Regions from separate parts of the Homo sapiens genome. Here region 2 is linked to region 1. Evidence: fine-mapped expression QTL. Tissue or cell type: whole blood. Region 1 holds a variant in brackets; the other region holds the start of a gene. All regions are shown on one strand. Distances are between the middles of the regions.

Region 1 (4,159 bases):
TCCCACCTTAGCCTCCTGAGTAGCTGGGACTACAGGCACATGCAACCACACCTGGCTTTTTTTTTGTAGAGCTGGGGTTTCACCATGTTGCCCAGGCCCAAGCCAGTCACAAACTCCTGGGCTGAAGCAACCTGCCCACCTTGGCCTCCCAAGGAAGGTTGTTCTGAGTCTAGAGAGAGCACGTGCAAAGGCCCAGAGGCAAGAGTGGAGGCATGTGACAAACAGAAAGAAGTTCCAGTTGGGCTGGAGTGTACCATGAAGAGGAAGCAGGGGCCAGAAGGGAACTTGAACGGTACGGCTACAGAAAAGAGCCGGGACCAAATCATGCAGGGTTTGTAAACCTCATTAAAAAGTCTGCACTTGATTAGTCACTGAAAGCTTTTTAACCAGGAGGGATGTGATCAGATGTGCACTTTTGTGGGGTTTTTTTGGTTTTTGTTTTTGAGACAGAGTCTCACTCTGTCACCTAGGCTGGAGTGCAGTGGCGTGATCTTGGCTCACTGCAACCTCTGCCTCCTGGGTTCAAGTGATTCTCCCGCCTCAGCCTCCTGAGTAGCTGGGATTACAGGTGCATGCCACTACGCCCGGCTAATTTTTGTATTTTTAGTAGAGATGGGGTTTCCCCATGTTGGCCAGGCTGGTTTCAAACTCCTTACCTCAGGTGATCTGCCCGCCTCGGCCTCCCAAAGTGCTGGGATTACAGGCATGAGCCACCATGTTCAGCCCAGATGTGCACTTTTCAACGATCATTCTGGCTGCAATGTTTTTTTTTTTTTTTTTTTTTTTTTGAGATGGAGTTTTGCTCTGTCACCCAGGCCGGAGTACAGTGGTGTGATCTCGGCTCACCACAACCTCCGCCTCCCAGATTCAAGTGATTCTCCTGCCTCAGCCTCCCAAGTAGATGGAATTACAGCTAATTTTTGTATTTTTAGTAAAGACGGGGTTTCTATCCACTACCACGCCCAGCTAATTTTTGTATTTTTAGTAGAGATGGGGTTTCACCATGTCGGCCAGGCTGGTCTTGAACTCTTGACCTCAGGTGATCCACCTGCCTTGTCCTCCCAAAGTGCTGGGATTACAGGTGTGAGCCACCATGCCCGGCCTCTGGCTGCAATTTGCACAGCAGTGTGACCTTACAGTAGAGTATTCGCCCTTCCTGGGCCTCGGTTTTGTAATTTATAAAGTGAGGATAACCTACTCCCTGCTGGGCTATTGTGAGGTTTCAATTATTATAGATAATACACACACAATGCCTGGAACCACTGATATTAGAGATGTGATGTTGGAAACATAGAAGCCTAGGTAATTCTCCAGGGATGTGTGAAGAGCTAGTGATAAAGCCAGGACTCAACTGACCTCCACAAACCCGTTAGTGTCCTGTCCTGCTAGATTCCTTTAGCATGATAGCAGTGGTGCTATCATGGCTCACTGCAGCCTCAAACTCCTGGTCTCAAGCCATCCTCTGCCTCAGTCTCCCAAGTTGCTAGGACTACAGGCGCATGCTATCATGGCTAGCTGGTAAACTGACCCAAAATTCAGGTTTGAGAGAAAGTACTTCCTAGGATTTCTTCTGACCACACTTATTTGGGAAAAGATGTCTAGGTGTGGAGCTCAGGCTGCCCCCACCCAGGATAAGAAGTTTGTGGCAGGAGGACCACTTGAGTCAGAGTCTAGCCCCATTCCAGAACGGTACAGAGGAAA[G/T]GATACCAATGTGCTCTGACTCACCCCCGCACAGAAATATTGGCTGACTGCGCTGCCTTCAGGATTGCGTCAAACCTCTGAAAACTCTCCTCTATGGAACAATTGATGTTCTTCTTGGTGAAGAGCTCTGAGGCAGCTCCAAAGATGACTACTTCCTTGGCTCCAGCAGCAACCTGCCAACATCCAGGTGAACTCCTTTCAGCACTTTTCTCTTTTTTTGTTTGAGATGGAGTCTTGCTTTGTTGCCCAGGCTGGAGTGCAGTGGCATGATCTCGGCTCACTGCAACCTCCACCTCCTGGGTTCAAGCGATTCTCCTGCCTCAGCCTCCTGAGTAGCTGGGATTACAGGAGCCCACCACCACGCCCGGCTAATTTTTGTATTTTTAGTAGAGACAGCGTTTCACCATGTTGGTCAGGCTGGTTTCGAACTCCTGACCTTGTGATCCACCCACCTCAGCCTCCCAAAGTGCTGAGATTACAGGTGTCAGCCATCATGCCCGGCCAGCACTTTTCTCTTTAAAGAACACTGACACAGAGTAGCAAAAAATTTCTCTTAAGGTAAATTTTATGTTATGTGAATGTTATGGGTTGAATTGTGTCCTCCTAAAAATATATGTTGAAGGATTAAAACCCAGCACCTCAGAATGTGACCTTATTTGGAAACAGCGTCATTGCAGATATCATTAGTTAAGATGAAGCCATACTGGAATAGGGTGGGCCCCTAATCCCATACGACTGGTGACCTTAAAAAAAGATGGCCAGCCGGGCGCAGTGGCTCACGCTTGTAATCACAGCACTTTGGGAGGCCGAGGCGGGCAGATCATGAGGTCAGGAGATCGAGACCATCCTGGCTAACACAGTGAAACCCCATCTCTACTAAAAATACAAAAAATTAGCCGGTCGTGGTGGCACACGCCTGTAGTCCCAGCTACTCGGGAGGCTGAGGTGGGAGAATCACTTGAACCTGGGAGGTGGAGCTTGCAGTGAGCCGAGATCATGCCACTGTACTCCAGCCTGGGCGACAGAGCAAGACTCTGTCTAAAAAAAACAAAAACAAAAGATGGCCAAGTGAAGACACAGAGACACAGAAAAGGTGGCCCTGGGAAAACGGAGGCAAAGACTGGAGAGATGCATCTACAAGCCAGGCAATGCCAAGGACTGCTGGCCACCACCAGACCCCAGCAGAGAGGCATAGGACAGATTCTCCCAGAGGCCTCAGAAGGAACCAATCCTGCTGACACCTTGATTTGGGACTTCTGGCCTCCAGACTGTGAGAGAATAAATTTCTGTTGTTTTTAAGCCACCCAATTTGTAGTGCTTTCTTTTTTTTTTTCTTTTTTCTTTTTTTGAGACAAAGTCTTGCTCTGTCACCCAGGCTGGAATGCAGTGGCATGATCTTGGCTCACTGCAACCTCCGCCTTCCGGGTTCAAGTGATTCTCCTGCCTCAGCCTCCTGAGTAGCTAGGATTACAGGTACCTGCCACCAAGCCTGGCTAATTTTTTGTATTTTTAGTAGAGACGGGGTTTCATCGTGTTAGCCAGGATGGTCTCGATCTCCTGACCTCATGATCCGCCCGCCCTGGTCTCCCAAAGTGCTAGGATTACAGGCGTGAGCCACCGCGCCCGGCCTGTAGTGCTTTCTTACAGTAGCACTAGGAAACAAACACAGTAATTTCTCTTAATTAAAAAAAAAAAAACTTTGATTTTCCCCAAGGAAACCACCACCACTGCCATCACCACCCTGGAAGTCACTCTTGAGAAAAAGCTTTTTTTTTTTTCTTGCTGTGTCACCCAGGCTGGAAGAGTGCAGCGGTATTATCATGGCTCACTGCAGCCTCGAACTCCTAGTCTCAAGCCATCCTGTGCCTCAGTCTCCCGAGTAGCTAGGACTACAGGTGCATGCCATCACAGCCAGCTAATTGATTTTTTTTTTTTTTTTTGTAGAGACAAGGTCTCCTTATGTTGCTCAGGCTGGTCTCAAGCTTCTGGCCTCAAGCTGTTCTCCGGCCTCAGCCTCCCAAAGTGCTGGGATTATAGGTGTGAGCCACTGTGCCCAGCCAAAAAAAGGTTTTTGCCTAAATACAGAACCAACGCCTCCAAAGATGTTCTTGTCTAAAATTGTAAGAAAGTTGGCAGATGCCAGCAACTACTGTTGAAACTCTTGTGGAGAGTTTGGTTACATTTCTCTAAAGAAGTGGATAATCAAAAGAGCTAACATTTATTAAGCAGTTACCTTTTATCTGGCTCTTGCTAAGCAATGTACATGCATCCTATCTTCTGAAATGCTCACAACTTCAGGTACTATCATTTAGCCCTATTTTATAGGCTTGTCAACTTGTCAAGATCACAGAGCAGTGAGTGGCAGGGCCAGGTTTGCCCCAGGGTCTGGCTGACAGACAAGCTATTCAGATGGACATCCCAGGACAGGGGACTGAGGCGCCAAGACAAGGCAGGGACC
Region 2 (4,159 bases), 36 kb before region 1:
GAGCCACCACACCTGGCTGTACCTAGCTCTTAAAGTTCATGTGACAATTAATTGAGATGAACTACATAATGTGCTTAGCACACAGTGCTCAAATAAATCATTAATGAAGGCAACAGGAAAAAGCCAAAATGAGTAGATCTCCGGGGTAAGGCCTGAGTTGGTTCTTCAAAAGGACACTCTTACCAAAGAAAGGCTACCAAGTATATCAGTCAAGTAAACATTTACTGTTTGCCACATTCCAGGTCCCTTACCTGAAACTGTGACCTAAAAGCAGGAATAATTCACGGCACTGAGCTATTTTGAAACAGAACCAAGCTTGCTTATTGCACAAGTAACTAAAATAGGACATCAAAATATTTTTCTTGTTTTTATTTTTTTGAGACAGTCTTGCTCTGACACCCAGGTTGGAGTGCAGTGGTATGATTACAGCTCACTACAGCCTCACCCTCCCAGGCTCAGGAGATCCTTCCACTTCAGCCTCCCAAATAGCTGGGACCACAGGCATGAGCCACCATGCTGGGCTAATATTTTTAATTATTTTTGTAAAGATGGGGTCTCCCTATGTTGCCCAGGCTAGTCTCAAACTCCTGGGCTCAAGTGATCCTCCCACCTTGGCCTCCCAAAAGTGCTGAGATTACAGGCATGAGGCACTGCATGTGGCCCAGAAAATATTTCTGAATGGAACTTGAAAAAATGGATATTTTGGTCTATACTTCACCAGCCCCACTGAGCACTCCAGAGCCAGATGTGAAGGGAAGAGGGTAGCCAGGGTATCCCATAACTCTCTTTCTGTATCCTGTCTTTTCCCCACCAGGGAGTAGGAAAACATTCTATCCTGAAAACAAGATTATTTCACCTCTAAACAGTGACTTTTAATTATTTTGATCTCAACCCACAATATGAAAAACACATCATATTGTGTCTGAATACAAACTCAAAACTGAAACAAAAGTTTCATCAATTGAGACTTGAAATGTGTGATACATTCTGGGTTTTTTTTTTTTTGTATTCTATTTTTTTTTTAAATGTTGATCACAATTCTCTATAAACGGATTTTAAAACCTATTGACAGGCCACAACCAGCTGTTCGAAAAAAAGTACTTTGAAATATCACATGGGGGAGGAAACGCAGAGATCATCTAGTCCAATCCCTTCACTTCACAGGGGGTAAACTGAGTCTCAGAAGATCAAGTCACTTGCCCAAGGCCACGCAGCTAGTAAGTTGCTGTGGTTGGATTTGACCGTAATAACCATCGGCTACTGAATGCCCATCATGTGTCAGCCATTTGCTGAGTTTTTTCTTTTTTTTTCTTTTTGAGACAGAGTCTTGCTCTGTCGCCAGGCTGGAGTGCAGTGGCGCGATGTCGGCTCACTGCAACCTCTGCCTCCCGGGTTCAAGCGATTCTCCTGCTTCAGCCTCCCGAGTAGCTGGGACTACAGGCTCGCGCCACCACGCCTAGCTAATTTTTGTATTTTTAGTAGAGACGGGGTTTCATCATGTTGGCTAGGATGGTCTCGATCTTTTGACCTCGTGATCCGCCCGCCTCGGCCTCCCAAAGTGCTGGGATTACAGGCGTGAGCCACCGCGCCCGGCCTGCTGAGTTCTTTAATTGCATTATTTCATTTAATACTCACTGTGATCCTATGAAACAGATACTATTCTTTCCACCTTACAGACGGGGAAACGGAGTCTCAGAATAGGGGAAATGACTTAAGGTGTCACAATGGCCAGTAGCAGACCCAGGAGTAGTCTTTAGGTCTGGCCGTGCACAAAGCCCCATGCTCTCAAGCTGTAACCCCGCTATCAAGAAAGTGGTTATGCAAGTGGGCCTGTGAGCTCTCAACGTCTAAGCCGTGCGCATGTGAGACAGCGATAAGCTCGCGTTCTCCAGTCTCCAGGGCCTTATCATTCCTCACGCTTTCCTTCATCGGCTCGCAAAGAAACGTGGCGATCAAGGAAGACAGCGAAGGCTCCATCCTCGTCGGGGGAGGATAATTCGAATCTCAGCCTGTGAGTTTACTCAGCACACCTGTTTAATCTCTTGGTCCTTCAGTTTCCACACCTAGGAAGCTGGAACAGCAGCAGCATCCAGCGCCAGGACTGGAGTCATATACGAACTCTGGCACCTGGGAGGCGCGCGTCCTACGTCAGTTCCGCTCGACCCCACCCCCCCCGCCCCCCCGCCTTCTCCCCACGCGCATGCGCCGCGCAGCGGCGCTTTTTACGACGCGGCAGGCGCGGCGCGCTTAGTTGCCGGAGCTGAACGGCGCGGAGCTGGTCTGAGGCGAGCCGAGCCGAGCGAGCGCGGCGGTGGGGCCGAGAGGACGCGCAGGTGGCGGCGTTGCCATGTCGCACGGTCACAGCCACGGCGGGGGTGGCTGCCGCTGCGCCGCCGAACGGGAGGAGCCGCCCGAGCAGCGCGGCCTGGCCTACGGCCTGTACCTGCGCATCGACCTGGAGCGGCTGCAATGCCTTAACGAGAGCCGCGAGGGCAGCGGCCGCGGCGTCTTCAAGCCGTGGGAGGAGCGGACCGACCGCTCCAAGGTGGGCCGCCTGGGGCTTGGGGCGGGCGGGGCAGGGTGCGTGTGGGGCCTCGGGCCGTCGGTCTACTCATTTCTGATGTTAAGAATAACGACAGCCTGGTTGCCAAGCGCTTTTCCGTGCCTGTCTCCTGCCAGCTCTTTGGGAGGCGAGCAGCGTTGTCTCCCCATTTTGCATATAGGGAAACTGAGGCCTAGAGGGAACGGGGACAGTTTTGTCAAGCTACACAGCCTAACGCTCTATTCCAGGGCTGTGTGGGCTAGAGAGGATGGTCGTGAGGGCCGTTGGACCATTGGTGCTAATGGCTGCCTCATCATATTACCTGGTGAAGATGAGCCTAGGGAGATGAAAGGTGGTTCCCATATAGAGCAAATGTTCTTTACATTGTGGGGTCGCAGGCCCCTTTGCTATCTGTTTGAAAGCAGTGGACCTTCTTCTCAGAAAAATGCACATAAACACCTGCCTTTCAGTTCACACTTCAGAAGGCTCTTCGACCCTGGAAATTCATTCATGGGCTTTTTGTTAAGAACCTTCCAGTTGGGTGGCCTGTGGCTGTTATGACACTGGATAAGACTGGTTAGCTTCAAGTTAATAAGTCTTGGAAAACCAAGGGAGAGTGACTCTTCCCATTGCACCCCAGTTGTAGAGCAGGGTGGGAGATGCCTGAAATTGTAGGCTCTCAGCAAATATTTGTTGCTTTCTCCTCCCCCCTCCCCATCCCCTCCAGTTTGTTGAAAGTGATGCAGATGAAGAGCTTCTGTTTAATATTCCGTAAGTATCTCCTTGGTGCCTACCTCAGGCTAAATAGGCTGTACCCAGTTGCCTCAGATGGATTCATTCACTGGTGTCAAGAGCACACATTTGCTTCTAGAAATGGGATAAATTACTTTGGTGGGTTTGAGGAGGAAAGCATCATAGCTTTCTTGGTGCAGACTGGAAACAGATGTATTTGTAGAACAATAACTGAGAAATTGAGGTAGATTTCTTAGAATTGTAGAATGCTAGAGGTAGACAGGATCTTAGAAATTATCTAGTACAAGTTGACAGATGAGTAAACTGAAGCCCATACAGGGGAAGGGTCTTGCCCAGGGTCACACAACTAAACAGGTATTCAAACTCAGGTTTGACAACCTTCTCTTTTGCATTCTGGCAGATTTACGGGCAATGTCAAGCTCAAAGGCATCATTATAATGGGAGAGGATGATGACTCACACCCCTCTGAGATGAGACTGTAAGTGGCAAAGGCTTAGGCCCTCAAAGGAGCTCCTAATTCTCTTTTTCTGGTAACATTTTATTCCAGAATAGTATCATTTTCTTCTTACCGGGTTTAATATTTCCCCTTTTAAAATATCTTGGTCCTGTTCTCATTCTGCATTGGAATACATATATTTCTTCCTGAATTAATGACTTTTTTAGATTAAGCATCTTTAGGCCCAACAGCGTGTCTCATATTTCAAAGTGCTTACTATGACATGATTCATTCAGAGAGCATTGTGTAAATGTCACTTGTTGATGACTCTGCAGTTTTCTTAATAACTAGCTGCAGATCTCATATGATCTTTATGGATTCTAGGGGTTAGCTTCAACATTTTTCCTTGCTATTTCATACAGTAATGA

The links. PIP is the estimated chance that this variant, and not a neighbour inherited with it, causes the effect.
Region 2: ELOA-AS1 starts here. The variant in region 1 is fine-mapped to the expression of ELOA-AS1 in whole blood (TOPMed, PIP above 0.99).

Annotation. Positions count from the first base shown.
Region 1 is chr1:23,812,465-23,816,623 of GRCh38, forward strand. It overlaps HMGCL (3-hydroxy-3-methylglutaryl-CoA lyase), which reads right to left. Exons shown (of 9, transcript NM_000191.3): 5 at 1,726-1,874. Among named protein-coding and RNA genes, the nearest start is that of HMGCL, 11 kb to the right of the region's middle. The variant G/T (reference allele first, on the strand shown) is at 1,702.
Region 2 is chr1:23,776,169-23,780,327 of GRCh38, forward strand. It overlaps ELOA-AS1 (ELOA antisense RNA 1), which reads right to left and starts at 2,129. Exons shown (of 4, transcript NR_038280.1): 1 at 2,031-2,129. It overlaps PITHD1 (PITH domain containing 1), which reads left to right and starts at 2,250. Exons shown (of 6, transcript NM_020362.5): 1 at 2,250-2,545; 2 at 3,270-3,313; 3 at 3,696-3,773. The coding sequence starts at 2,348. RefSeq lists enhancers at 974-1,926, 3,180-4,159 and silencers at 2,180-2,489, 2,580-2,629.